2 linked regions of the Homo sapiens genome follow. The protein of the gene in region 1 purifies or fractionates together with the protein of each later gene. This does not show direct contact. Each region holds a gene or a part of one and is shown on either strand. Other genes may lie near its edges.

Region 1 (7,863 bases):
CCCTGTCTCTACTAAAAATACAAAAATTAGCCGGGCATGGTGGCATGTGCCTGTAGTCCCAACTACTCGAGAGGCTGAGGCAGGAGAATCTCTTGAACCCAAGAGGTGGAGCTTTCAGTGAGCCGAGATGGCATCACTGCACTCCAGCCTGGACGACAGAACAAGACTCCGTCTCAAAAACAAAAAACAAACAAAAAAAAAATATGAATTTGGGAGGGACACAAACATTCCGTCCATAACACAGCCCTAGCAGACTTAATACAATTATTTAGCCCATTCACATTTAATGTTATTATTGATAATATTAGATTTAAGTCTCCCATTTTGCTTTTTGTTTTCCCTTCCTTCCTCCCTCCCTCTTTCCCTTCCACCCTTCCTTCCTTCCTTCCTTCCCTCCCTCCATCCCTCCTTTCTTCCTTCCTTCCTTCCCTCCCTCCCTCCCTCCATCCCTCCTTTCTTCCTTCCTTCCCTCCCTCCCTCCATCCCTCCTTTCTTCCTTCCTTTTTTGAGATGGGGCCTCACTCTGTTACCCAGGCTGGAGTGCAATGATACAAACAAGGCTCACTGCAGCCTCAACTTCCTGGGCTCAAGCCTCAAGCCATCCTCCTGCCTCAGCCTCCTAAGTAGCTCGGACCACAGGTGTGTGCCACCACACCCTGCTTTTTCTTTTTTTTGGTAGAGACGCGGTCTCTCTATGCTGCCCAGGCTGGTCTCAAACAGCTGGGCTCAAGCAGTCCTCCCTCCTCAGCCTCCCAAAGTGGTGGGATTGCAGGAGTGAGCCACCATGCCCAGCCTGCTTTTTGTTTTTTAATACGTCATATTGTCTTTCTGTTCCTCTGTTCCTCCTTCAATGGTTTTTCATTATGTGAATCTTTTATAGTTTAACATTTGAATTTCTTTAATTATTGGTTTACTATTTTTTAAAGTTATTTTCTTGGCAGGCCCAGTGGCTCATGCCTGTAATCCCAGCACTCTGGGAGACAGAGGCAGGTGAATCGCTTGACGTCAGGAGTTCGAGACCAGCCTTGCCAACATGGAAAAACCCCATTTCTACAAATAACAGAAAAATTAGCCAGACACAGTGGCGTACACCTGTAATCCCAGCTACTCAGGAGGCTGCGGCAGGAGAGTCGCTTGAACCCAGGAGGCGGAGGTTGCAGTGAGCCAAGATCGCACCATTGCACTCCAGCCTGGGCAACAGAGCAAGACTTCGTCTCAAAAAAAAAAAAAAAAAAAAAAAAGGCCGGGCACAGTGGATCATGCCTGTAATCCCAACACTTTGGGAGGCCAAAGTGGGCGGATCACAAGGTCAGGAGTCTGAGACGAGCTTGGCCAATATGGTGAAACCCCGTCTCTACTAAAAATACAAAATTAGCTGGGCATGGTGGTGGGCTCCTGTAGTCCCAGCTACTTGGGAGGCTGAGGCAGGAGAATCGCTTGAACCCGGGAGGCAGAGGTTGCAGTGAGCTGAGATCACGTCACTGCACTCCAGCCTGGGTGACAGAGTGAAACTGCGTCTCAAAAAAAAAAAAAAAAAAAAAAAAAAGCTCTAGGGCTTCCAATATAGATCTTATCAGAATCTATAATACTTCAGAGTTATAATAATTGAATTCCAGTGACATATATAAATGTAACTCCCGTATAGCTCTATTCCCTCCTCCTCTTTTTGTGCTATTATTGTTATATGGATTACATTTACATGTTATAAACCAAACAATACTTTGTTATAACTTTATGTTATAAAATTTTATGTATTTTAAATCTTCCAAAGTAGCCGAGAGAAGAAAACAGAGCCAAGTTTATATTTATAATTTGTAATATTAATCTTCTTATTATTTCTCGTTCTCTTCCTTGTTTCCTGTGGATTCAAGCTACCATCTGGTGTTATTAGCATTTTATATGATTCCATTTTCTCTCCTTTCTTAGTGCATATGAATTATACTTTTTAAAAACTTTTTTTGCTGGTTGCCCTAGAGTTGGCAATATACATTTATAACTAATTCAAGTCCACTTTCAAGTAACATTATACTGCTTTCCAGGTAATGCAGGTAACTTAAAACAAAGTATTCTTAATTCTTCCCTCTCATGGCTAGTATCATTATTGTCATTCATTCAACTTATCCATAACCTACAATCATCAAATACATTATTATTATTTTGAATAAATGATTATTAGATCAATTAGGAATAAGAAAAACAAAAGTTTTATTTTACTTTCACTTATTCCTTAAAGTTCTTTCTTTATGTCGAAATTTATGACCTATATCATTTTCCTTCTCTCTGAAAAATTTCTTTTAACATTTCTTGCAAAGCAGGTCTACTGGTGAGAAATACCTTCAATTTTGTTTGTAAAAGTATTTCTCTTTCACTTCTGAAGGATAATTTCACTGAATACAGAATTCTAGGATGGTGGGGGTTTTCTCTCAAAATTTTAAATATTTCACCCCACTCTCTTCTTGCTTGCATGATTTCCGAAGACAAGTCCAATGTGATTCTTATCCTTATCCCACCTTATCTTATTTCCACCTCATCCTACCCAGCTCCTGCTCCCAGCTTTGCTTGCTCTTTCTTTCTTTCTTTCTTTCTTTTTTCTTTTCTTTTCTTTTTTTTGAGATGGAGTCTCCCTCTGTCACCCAGGCTGGAGTGCAGTGGCATGATCTCAGTTTACTGCAACCTCCACCTCTTGGATTCAAGCGATTCTTGTGCCTCAGCCTCCTGAGTAGCGGGGACTACAGACATGTGCCACCACACCTGGCTAATTTTGTATTTTTAGTAGAGACAGGGTTTCACCATATTGGCCAGGCTGGTCTTGAACTCCTGACCTCAAGTGATCCGCCCACCTCAGCCTCCCAAAGTGCTGAGATTACAGGCCAGCTTCTTTTGAGATTTTTTTTTTTTAATCTTGATTTCCTGCAGGCTTTTTTCAACTTTTATTTTAGATTCTGGTATATTGTGCAATGCTGATATTTGGGGTATGAATGATCCTGTCACCCAGGTACTGAGCACAGTACCCCATAGTTATCCAACCCTTGTCCCCTCCTTCCCTCCCCGCTCTGGTAGCCTCCAGTGTCTACTGTTGCCATCTTTACGTCCATGTGTACTCAATGCTCGCTTAAAAGTGAGAGCATGTAGTATATAATTTTCTGTTCCTGTGTTCATTTGCTTGGAATAATAGCTTCCAACTTCATCCATGTTTGCTACAAAGGACATGATTTCATTCTTTTTAATGACTACATAGTATTCCATATTGTATATGTACCACATTTTCTTTATCCAGTCGATCACTGAAGGGCACCTAGGTTGACTCCATGTCTTTGCTACTGTGACTAGTACTGTGATGAACATGCAAATGTATGTGTCTTTATGGTAGAACAATTTATTTTCCTTTTGCGTATATACCCAGTAAAGGGACTGCTGGGTTGAATAGTACTGTTTTAAGTTGTTTGAGAAATCTCTAAACTGCTTTCAACAGTGACTGAACTAATTTACATTACCACCAGCAGTGTATAAGCATTCCCTTTTCCCTGCAGCCTCACCAGCGTCTGTTGGTTTTTGACTTTTTAATAGTAGCCATTCTGATTGGTGTGAGATGCATTACTCTGATGATTAGTGATGTGGAGCATTTTTTCATGTTTGTTGACCACTTGTATATCTCCCTTTGAGAAGTCTATTCATGTCTTTTTGCCTGTTTTTTGATGGGGTTGTTTTTTGCTTGTTTAATTAAATTCCTTACAGATTCTGGATATTAAGACCTTTGTCGAATGCTTACTTTGCTAATACTTTTCTCCCACTCTATAGGTTGTCTGCTGACTCTGTTGATAGTTTCTTTTGATTTTCTACGGTTTAAATAGGAATGTCTAGGTGTAGTTCTTGGCATTTATCTTGCTTAATGTTCTCAGAGCTTCCTAGAATTGTGGTTTGGTGTTTGGCATTAATTTGGAAATATTCATTCTCAGTCGTTATTGTTTCAAATATTTCTTCTGTTCCTCTCTTTCTTGTCCTTCTGGTATTCCCATATATTTTTAATATACATTTAATGTAATGAATTTTTTAAACAAAATATAACTTAGGAGCCAGGTGTGGTGGTGTGCACCTGTAAGTCTCAGCTACTTGAGAAGCTGAGGTTGAGGGTAGCTTGAGTCCAGGAGTTTGAGGTTGTAGTGTGCTGCGATCACACCTGAGAATAGCCACTGCACTCCAGCTTGGGCAACATAGCAAGATCCACCCCTAAAATTTATGTATGTATGTGTATACATATATATGATTTGTATGATTTTCCTTATTATACGTTTATAGCTATATATGTATGTATAGATACATAAACATATATGTATATGAATGAATCACCTTGTGAGGGAGGTATTATCACTTTTTTTTTCGGAGAAGAGGTAGCCAAGGCTCTGAGAGGTCACGACACATGCATGAGATCACACAGCGCGTCTGGAATTCCATTTCAAGCCTGTCTGAGGAGGGCGCTCTCGCTGCTTCTTTACCTGGTCTTGTGTCCCCAAGTGTGTAATGTGAGGTAAGACCCAGGGTCTGTGTCCGGGAGTCCTGGCCCAAGGCGGGCGCAGTCTCCAGCCGCCCCACCCCTGGCTGGGGGCTCTGCTCAGGGAGCACGGCCGGCAGGGGGGAGGAGGCGTGCGCTAGGCAGCAGCGGGGATGGAGGGAAGGGAGGGGGTCCGCCACCCGCCTGTGCGCGCCCAGTCCTGCCGCATCCTGGGTGCGCGCCGCCCACCCGCGGGGCGAGTGCCCAGGAGGCGAGGCGCGGCCCGGTGCGCCAGAGGTAGCTCCACCGCGAGCGTTGTGGGTGGGGCCCGCCGAGCCCGCCTCCCCACCTCCCCCGGCGGCGCCCCAGGCTGCAGTGTTCCGGGAGCTGGGTTATAAAATGCCGGGTTAAGCGGCAACTCAGACTCAGGATCCCGCTCACGACATGGCCTCGGGCGCTCAGCTCCCGCCGCAGCCGTCGAGCTCAGAGGTCAGCGCCGTCCAGAGCCCAGGCGGGCGTCCCGGCGCCGGTCTGGAGGAAACAGCCCTGGGCGTTCCTCTCCCGCCGTCTCCGGGGGAGGCCCCTCTGCCCCGAAGCAACCGGAGCAGGTGCCCTGGGACCCGCCAGCCCGGAGCGGCCTCCCTCCACGCGGCGTCCGCAGCAGTCCCCGTGCGGCCCCGGCGCGGTACGGCGCCAGCCGGGAAAACCGCAGACGCGGTCCCCGCCGCCGCCCCAGAGCAAGCTCCGCGGCCGGCTCCACAGTCCCGCAAGCCGCGCAACCTGGAAGGCGACCTGGACGAGCGCCGGCTGCTCTGCCACTTGCAGCTGGCCCAGGACCGCGAGGCGCGCCTGTGGCGGGGCGGCAAACCCCAGGTACCCGTCGCTGCCGCGTGGCCCTCCTCGCGCGTGCACGGCAGGCGGATGTGGCCTCCACCTGCACCCGCGCTCGGGTGTTCTGAAACTGGAGGCCGGGCCCTTCCCCAGGTGTGGCCCCTCACGAGAGGCACGAGGCTGGATCCACCAGCTTCTCTCTAGGAGGGCGTCTTGCTAGCAGGGCCTTCGGAAGAGGGCCTGTTTGAATCAAGGAACTCAGCCTACGACGAAAAGTGGGCGCGAGGGGTGGGGGTGATGGGTGAGCCGCTGCGCCGGGGGGCGCTTACTCCCAGCGGGCATGCAGAGGAAGGGACTTCTCACTGCCCCACCCCCCGCACCTTAAGCAGGAGGCTCCTGCTGCTGGGGGACCAGGAGTGGCCGCTAGCGACCTTCCTCGCCCCACCTGCTCTTCTTCCTAGCAGGATGAAATCTGCGACGCCTTCGAGGAAGTCGTGCTGTGGCTCCTGCGGCTTCAGAACACCTTTTACTTCTCCCAGTCCACTTTTAACCTGGCCCTCACCATCTTTGGCCGCCTCCTGATTTCAGTGAAGGTAGGGAGGCCTCTGAGGGACGGTGGCAGATGGTGAGAGAAGAAACTAACCTTTGCTCCCCATTCCTGCTTGAGAGGTGAGGGTTTCCAGATGCTCAAAACCAAGGTGTATAAACTAACTTGCTCCGAGTGGAAGAGCTGGTGTTGGAACCTCTCCACATCCTACACTGGCTGTCTCAGGGTCATGTAGTCATCAGGATTGGACTTGGGGAGCGTGAGAGGACCTAGCTGGGAAAGGGCTTCCTGTGTAATGAGGTAGGATGTGCTTGTCTCGACCTGTCGAGGGCAGCTTGAGGCTAGGATGAGACTGGGTTCCCTGAGAAGGTGCCATATTTCCCACCTCCAGTCAGTCCCGAAATGAAGGAATACTGCCCAGTCATCTGCAGTTCTGAAATCAGGAGCATCTTCGTTGGTCAGATCTAAAAACGGCACTAACATTCTGTCTTGTGGAGAAATTGAGCCTTTTAAAAATGGGAAAAAAAAGCTTATTAAAACAAACGGCTGGGCGCAATGGCTCACGCCTGTAATCCCAGCAATTTGGGAGGCCAAGGGGTGTGGATCACTTGAGGTCAGGAGTTGGAGACCATCCTGGCCAGCATGGTGAAACCCTGTCTCTACTAAAAATACAAAAATTAGCCAGGTGTGGTGGCCCGCCCCTATAGTCCTAGCTACTCAGGAGGCTGTGACAGGAGAATCGCTCAAAATCAGGAGGTGGAGGTTGCAGTGAGCCAAGATCATGCCACTGCACTCCAGCCTGGGCAACAGAGTGAGACTCCATGTCAAAAAAGTGTATAAAAGAAAACAAACACAGATGCTTTTCAGTTTGTTTCTGGCATTCATATTCTGCTCAAATGTGTTTGTTCCATACTGCAGGTAAAAGAGAAATACCTGCATTGCGCCACAATTACTTCCTTGAGGCTCGCTGCAAAAGTTAATGAAGAAGAGGAGGTATGCATCCTTGGAAGTCCACACTGGGCTGCACTTGAGGTATAGGGGTGTAACATTGGAGGACTCCAGTTTCCTGATAGGTCTGTGCCCTTAGGTATGGTGGATGTTTTGAAAAAGTCACCAACTTGCCGGCATCTCTGCTATCCCTTCCATCGGCTTGTCAGGCTTTGAGACCCCACAAATGAACAAGTAGAGCAGCTGAACTGTCCTGGCCCACCAAACCTAGAGACCTGAACTCTTGACAGATACATCTGGCCTCACTGGTTGATGACAGATGCTACCTCTCTCTAAACAGGGGCATCTGCTGTTGAGCAAGGAAAAAGGCCTCCCAAACCATGTGACTTAACATCCACCCCAAGCAATTATGTCTAAGAAAGCTGCTTGAGACTTGAGGACTTGGCTGTGTCAATGAAGCTGGTCCTTGGGAACTCTGGGACCCCTGAGAGGGACAGGAGGGCCATGTGCTGGGGGTAAAGTACAAGGGGCCCATGAGCATTTCAGGCATGGCTGGATGGCTGAATTTCACTGTGGCATCTGTTCAGGAGGAGATCATCTCCTAATACCCTTTCCAAGCTTTCCTACCTCCCTCCAACTTCTCCCAGTTTGGGGATGGTGAAATCACTGCCATTGCCACGGGGGTCACCCTTAGCTGATCTCTGGGTCTGAGGAGGCAGGGAAGAAGTTGTGTGTCCAGTTCCAAACCTTCAATAAAAATGTTTTAAACTCCTGTTTATTAGAATAGAATTAATGCCCAAGTTGCTTTTGTCCAACTAAAAATCAAGTGACCCTTTTTCTGGAGGTTATAGTAATACTTCTGTTTATCTAAAAACATAGGATCAAGCCTTTAATGTACTTGGTACTCAAATGTTTACTCATAGACAAGCCTCATTAGTCCCTCTGTGGGAAAAGCCATAGTTTTTCCAGAACTGAACCACCTTCAATCAAGGTTGAAGGAAATGTGTTTGCAGTTGCGATGCTAAAAAACCCATAGGAGGTTTTATCA
Region 2 (7,032 bases), on another chromosome or scaffold:
TGCTTTATACAGTTAATATTCACTTAGGTTTATTCATGTATTTATTACTTGTTTTGCTCTGCAGTCCTTTCTGTGTCTCTGATAGGTAAAATCACTTTTATTCTACCCTTTGGGACTTTCTTTCATGAGACTCTGCTGGTGGCCATTTCTCATATTCTACACTCTTACTGAAAGATATTTTTGCAAGGCCTACAATTATCAGTTGATAGTTATTTTCCCTTGGCAAATTAAAGCTATCATTCCAATGTCTATTGGTTGTCACTGTTGGGAAACTAGCTATCAGCTGTCTAATGATTCTTCTTTCTTGAAAGTAATCTCTTTTTTTTCTGGCTAAACTCTGACACCTCTCCTCAGTTCTGTAGAGGTCCTAATTGCCTCTTATAATAATGACTTGGCCCCATTCTCTCTACCCTTTCATTCTGGAACTCTGACTAAATGTATATTTTAGACCTTCTCCGTTATCCTATATTCCAAGTTTCTTGCTTACCTTTTTTTAAAAAAAAAACAAAAACAAATAAAAAGCTTTATAATAAAATCTACTAGATGTTAAATTACAAAACTTGATTAAAACTTACCAACCAATAGCAAAGACTGTAGAAAATCATTCTGTATCCTCTTTTCATATATTCTATTTCTTTGCTACTCTGTGGAAATTTCTGAATAAATTCTTGGGAACAGTCTTCCAATTGACTAATTCTCTAATTCTGTCTAATCTGTTGCTAATCCCTTCAATTGATTTGGTTCTTAATTTTAATCATAATTGTTTTTACTTCCAGTTCTATCGTTATTCTTTAGGATTTCTTCTTCTCTACACATATTTTTATTTCCTTAAACACAGTAAGCCTAGCTACTGCATATTTTGTTTAATAATCTGACTATCTAAATTATTTTAAGGGGCCAGGCATGGTGGCTCACGCCTGTAATCCCAGCACTTTCGGAAGCCGAGGTAAGCAGATCACTTGAGGTCAGGAGTTCGAGACCAGCCTGGCCAACGTGGTGAAACCCCATCTCTACAAAAAACATAAAAAATTAGCCAGGTGTGATGGCACACGCCTGTAATCCCAGCTACTTTGGAGGCTGAGGCAGGAGAATCACTTGAACCTGGGAGGCGGAGGTTGCAGTGAGCTGAGATGGTGCCACTGCACTCCAGCCTGGGTGACGGAGAGAGACTCCATCTCAAAAAAAAAAAAAAAAAAAAAAAAAAGATTATTTTAAGGTATGTTTCTGCTGCCTGTTACTTTTGCTCATTCTCACATGCGAGATCTCACTTTCTTGTTAGATTATTCACTTTATGTGCTGCTAACTTTCCTTGCAATATAATGTGAATAAAGGAGGTCTAAGATAAAGGTGAATATTTTCATACACAAAAAATCTTTATTTTCATATGCTAGGTGTCTGGGAAACTAAGAGACCACAATCACATCAAATTTACAACTAGTGCTTCCTTTAGTCACCCAGAGTATGAACTTGGGTTGCATGAATACAACTTCTAGCCCAATTTTTTCCTCTCTATTCTGCTCAGCACAACCAGAAAAACATTCTGTTTTGTTTTTGTTTTTGTTTTTTGTTTTTTGAGTTAGAGTCTTGTTCTGTCACAAGGCTGGAATGCATTGACGTGATCTCCACTCACTGCAACCTCCACCTCCCGGGTTCAAGTGATTCTCCTGCCTTCAGCCTCCCGAGTAGCTGGGACTACAGGCACGCGCCACCATGTCCAGCTAATTTTTGTATTTTTAGTAGAGATGGGGTTTCATCATGTTGGCCAGATGGTCTCAATCTCTTGACCTCGTGATCCACCCACATCGGCCTCCCGAAGTGCTGGGATTACAGGCGTGAGCCACTGCGCCAGCCAGAAAAATATTCTTTACAGAGTCCCTTGGGGAGCAGGTAGGAAGCAAGTTTAGTTCTTCCACTGTAAGTGTATTCTTTTGGGGTATCTTTTTTCTCCCATAGATTTTTGGGGAACAGGTGGTATTTGGTTACACGAGTAAGTTATTTAGTAGTGATCTGTGAGATCTTGGTGCACTTTTGGGTACCAATTAAATGGGAAAAGGAATCCTATGGGAATCCACAGTTTTGAATGGTCCCTGAGTTTATGGTTTTTACCCGTTTTGGGTAGCTTCTACAAAGGGTCCTAAGGGTAAAACTAAGTTTCAGTACTTCACTTCTGTATAGTTTTATCCTGATAATAACTTACCTAGCATATCTTCAAAGATTTTAAGCAGATATTTTCTTACCTATAAGCCTATCATTTTAGTAGTCTTCAGCAGTAAATATATGCCAAAAACAGAATAAAGCCTTTACTCACTCTTTGGTCCAGTTCAACATAGCTTCTGGATCCACCAAAACTCTTTTTGCAGAGGTCAAAAATGAGTACTAAACTGCCCTATCAATTTGGCATACTTTTCATTCCTATCTAATTCAACCTGTAAAGTTGCTGACACACCTGATTATTTTCTTCTCTTAGAGCCAGCTTTTGACTTCCACAACAACACACTTTCCTATACAACTCCTATATAATCATTCCTCAAGGCTCAGATGAGACAGGTCTTCTCACTTCTATATTTCCTCTGCCACCTGTTTGTCTTGGCCGACCAATTCATCTTCTATATGGACAGCCTGTTAACTGGATTTCTTCTGCCCACTCTTGTCCCTGTACAATCCATTCTGTGCCAAAACAACCAGAGTGATCTATTAAAAATAAAAATTAGATGTCACACTGCCTTTGCAAAACCTAAGGTACTGGATTTGAACTTTAGATAAACTCCACATTATTTAACATGGCGCATAAATGATGACTCCTGCCTATTCATCTATAATTAACATTTTATATAATACCGTAGGCAAACTGACCTTTTTTCCAGTTCCTCAAATACACCAAAATCTTTTCTGCCAGATCCTTGACATTTACTGTTCCCTTTTCCTGGAATACTGTTTCCCTACTCTTTGCTTGGTTATGTCCTACTTCCACTTCAGATTTCACTATTACTGACTTTCTCAGAGGCCTTCCCTGACTACTCAATGAAATAGCATCCTGTTTTTTTCTTTTAGAGTATTTATTGTAATTTGTGATTAAGTACTTATTGTGGGTTTATTTTTAAGTCTGTTCCCCCAGTTAGCTGTAGGTTCTAGGCATGTAGAAACCCTATTTGTTACCTTCTCACTCTGTGCCCAGTTTCTAAGCAGTGTCTGGCACATAGTAAGCACTCAATGAGTATATGTTAAATGACTGATTTCTCTCCCTTTAAGCAGACCCACAGGAAAAGTACAAGTCTAATGAGATACTACATGTAGAAGACAGAATCAGAACCAAAGGGGATGAGTTAAATGATGGGAATGTACATAAGAATCAGGTCAAAGTAAGACATATCTGCAATTATAATGGTTAAAGTTATATAAGCCAAGATTACTTTCCGTTAATATTTAATGAATAAGATCAGCACATGCCTCAAGAACTCAATACATGGCTTTTAATTATTGTCTATAATTTAAGGAAATAATCACCTACAAATAGGATGTTTCTCAAGTTGGCTTACAAATTTGTTACTTGGCAGACTGAAAACATTTCCCACAGAACAAATATTATACACAATGGTTGGGTTCCTTTGGTTAATGCATAATGTTTACTCCATAATTTATTTACCCACAAACATGAATTGAACATTTCTTTGTGCCAGAAACTATTCTAACACTAGAAATACAATAGTAATGAACAAATAGAAAAAAATCCTATTGTCATTGGTATTACATCCATAGTTTTTTCTCCAAGAGAATAAAAGTAAGTAAAATATATAGAATTATAGATAATGATATATGCTATGGTGAAAAACAAAGCTGGGTAAAGGGATAGAGAATGGGGGAAGGATAATTTTAACTGATTATTAGTAGAATGTACTAGTATCTCTGTTCTAAAAGGATTTAAGATAGGTATTACTTACCGAACCTAAGTATTACAAATAAAATAGCAATGCTTACACTAGGAAAGACTTTCAACTGAGAAGCATTATAAAAACACACTTCCTTTCCCACAGCAGTAGGACAGGCAGAGAACTGCTAAGGCTCTAAGTCACGTAACAAGCTATCATAGCCTGAGGCAGGTCCTCCAAGAAGGCAGTGGTTACAGAAGGCTAAAAGCAGTACTGGGGATTCCAGGAAGAAAAGAAATGAGGAGCCAAGAAGGCTAGCACACTTCTTGTTGATGATATGAAGCCCCACCGACAGGCAGTCCCCTCTACTCAGCCACTAATTGGCTAGCTTTTCTTCCTACAACTTTATTTCCAACCAAGATCAGTTTCCTATTTGGCATATAATGTTATATAATTTTCCCTTATTATACCCTCTACTGAAAACAAATATTTAACTATTGGGGCTTTTCTGATAAACTTAATAGCAGAAAAAGATTCCTTTTATCCCCATATCTGTACCATTATAATTCATATTGAAGGAATGCAGATACCTGATAAACTATTCTGGTTCTCTATTTTACCTTAATAACTAGGATAGGAACCAGGATCTGGGATGAAATGCAAGAAGTTAAAAAAAATTAGAACAAGATTGTAAAAAGTAACCCTAGCACCACAGTAATGACTAGACCAAGAGAGATAATCATCCAGTTTAGTCATTTATAGTTTGTCCACAACCATTTCCACTACCTTAGATCATGCACCATAGACTAAGTGGGGAAAACAGAAAGAGGCAAGAAGAGTGCTCTCTAAAGCCACTGGCTCATACAGCTGCGGTGAGAGCCAGGTAAGCAATGAGCATATAAATTAAGCCTGTCCACAGTAACTTGTTTTTATTCTTTCATACGAGAAAGGGCGTTCTCAGTATTGTCACCTAAAACAAAAACAAAAAAAAACAAAACAAAAAAAAAAAAAAACAAGGGTATAAGTCAGTGAGTACTAATTTTCTTTTGTAATTACAGTATTCATCACGCTGTTACTTTCATAAAATAAAACGATTCCTCAGGTGGTAATTATCAGGTATATTTCCAGGAATTTTTCAAGTTAAATACAATGTATTTATATTCAACATTTCATAAAATAGAGCCTCAAGTTTGAGAAAATATAAACAGCAACATACAATCAAAACAAAGCATCAGTAGAAAGATGTTGGCCAGAAACAATTACCTTTATGGCTGTGTGTTTGTTTTCATCTTCTTCCATCCATAGATCCTGTTCATAATAGTATAAGCCATCATTGATAACTTTAGCAAGTTCAGATGTGATTTTTGCCCGAGACATGTGGGTGCCTGTTCGATCTCCTCCAGGATGTTTTTTCACATAAGGTGGTGTCTGAGTTACAATCAAAATCTTGTTTAAGTCTTGGTCATCAATTTCATAATCTGAATCATTATCAGACCAATCAGTAAATGTGTTTTTTCGTCCTATTTGTTCAATCTCTTCATCAAACAAAAAATCAAGTTCTTCTTGTTCTGGTTCTTCTGAAGAACATAGCTGATTTAATGACCCTTCAGGGACAGACACTGATTCCTGAAGGAAGAAATTGGTAATTTATATAAAAAACTTTCTATCATTTTTAAATTAAATGTCATAAAACAGTGTTACAAGTAAGTAATATCAAGCTTTTATGCTCAATTGCTAGTTTAACAGCCAAACTGTAAAAGAAAATCAAGTGAGTATTATTTTGGCCCAGTAAATTTAAGACTAAAGAAAAACACAAAGTTGAATAAAGAAAGGATTACATTAAAGACTCTTTTAGAGTTGGAATAGTCTTAATCATCCATTACATTGCACTGATTCATTTTACTGATTAAAACAAAGGCCTAGAGATATGAAAGTATTTGCCTATGATTTCATAATTATAAACAGAACCAATTATCTGGTTGTGGATTGCTGTATTCCCAGCTACTCGGGAGGCTGAGGCAGGAGAATCGTTTGAACCTGGGAGGCAGGGAGGTTGCAGTGAGCCAAGATCGCGCCATTGCGCTAGAGCCTGGGCGACAAGAGCGAAACTCTGTCTCAAAAAATAAATAGATAGATAGATAGATAGACAGATAGATAGAATCAAGGTCTTCTGATTTTCAGAGTCAATGGTCTTCCCTATTCCGAACCTTTTTACCTCACAATGATAATAACATAGTTTCTGAGCTAATCCCTCTACTCTATCCTCATCCCCATTCTACATGGCCCAGTTTTCATGTCAAATTCATGCTAATATTCAGCAAATGTTAAAATGTCTACCCCTCAGGCCAGGTGCAGTGGCTCACACCTATAATCCCAGCACTTTGGGACGCTGAGGCGGGTGGATCACAAGGTCAGGAGTTCAAGACCAGCCTGGCCAACATGGTGAAACCCCGTCTCTACTAAAAATACAAAAATTAGCCAGGCGTGGTGGCACGCACCTGTAGTCCCAGCTACTCGGGAGGCTGAGGCAGGAGAATTGCTTGAACCTGGGAGCCAGAGGTTGCAGTGAGCCGAGATCACGCCACTGGACTCCAGCCTGGGAGACAGAGCGAGACTCTGTCTGAAGAAAAAAAAAAAAAAAAAAAAAATTGTCTACCCCTTCTATAGAACTTAAAACAGCTAGGCCAGGTGCAGTGGCTCACATCTGTAATCCCAACACTTTGGGAGGCCAAGATGGGCAGATCACCTGAGGCCAGGAGTTCAAGACCTGCCTGGCCAACATGGTGAGACCCCATCTCTACTAAAAATGCAAAAATTACCCAGGTATAGTGGCACACACCTGTAGTCCTAGCTACTCGGGAGGCTGAGACAGGAGAATCGCTTGAACCCTGGAGGCGGAGGCTTGAACCCTGGAGGCGGAGGCTGCAGTGAGCTGAGATTGTGCCACTGTACTCCAGCCTGGGTGACAGAGCGAGACCCCATCTCAAAAAAAAAAAAAAGAACTTAAAACAGTTGTTGGTTTACATTAAAAGTCTAAGCTTTTAGATCCTAGATCTTATAACATGTAAACTAGTTTAAAACTCCCAACAGAAGGAAGTAGTTTCTACTTGGTGTTACATTCATTTTTCGTCCTCTGGCCTATTTTACCCTTCAGTTCATGCTAACT

Evidence for each region. The genes of interacting proteins can lie anywhere in the genome.
Region 2: the proteins of CCNI2 (region 1) and LARP1B purify together in Homo sapiens (affinity purification with mass spectrometry; 4 studies listed by BioGRID and IntAct, with this or other methods). This does not show direct contact.

What each region holds. Positions count from the first base shown.
Region 1 is NC_000005.10:132,742,563-132,750,425, forward strand, and holds the start of CCNI2 (cyclin-I2), read left to right. Parts: upstream 1-4,863; 5' UTR 4,864-4,933; coding exon 4,934-5,362; intron 5,363-5,781; coding exon of another isoform or gene 5,782-5,784; coding exon 5,785-5,913; intron 5,914-6,785; coding exon 6,786-6,860; intron 6,861-7,863.
Region 2 is NC_000004.12:128,120,286-128,127,317, reverse strand, and holds part of LARP1B (la-related protein 1B), read right to left. Parts: intron 5,493-7,032; coding exon 5,130-5,492; coding exon of another isoform or gene 5,085-5,129; exon of another isoform or gene 4,965-5,084; intron 4,837-4,964; coding exon of another isoform or gene 4,804-4,836; exon of another isoform or gene 3,449-4,803; intron 2,692-3,448; coding exon of another isoform or gene 2,623-2,691; exon of another isoform or gene 1,830-2,622; intron 1-1,829.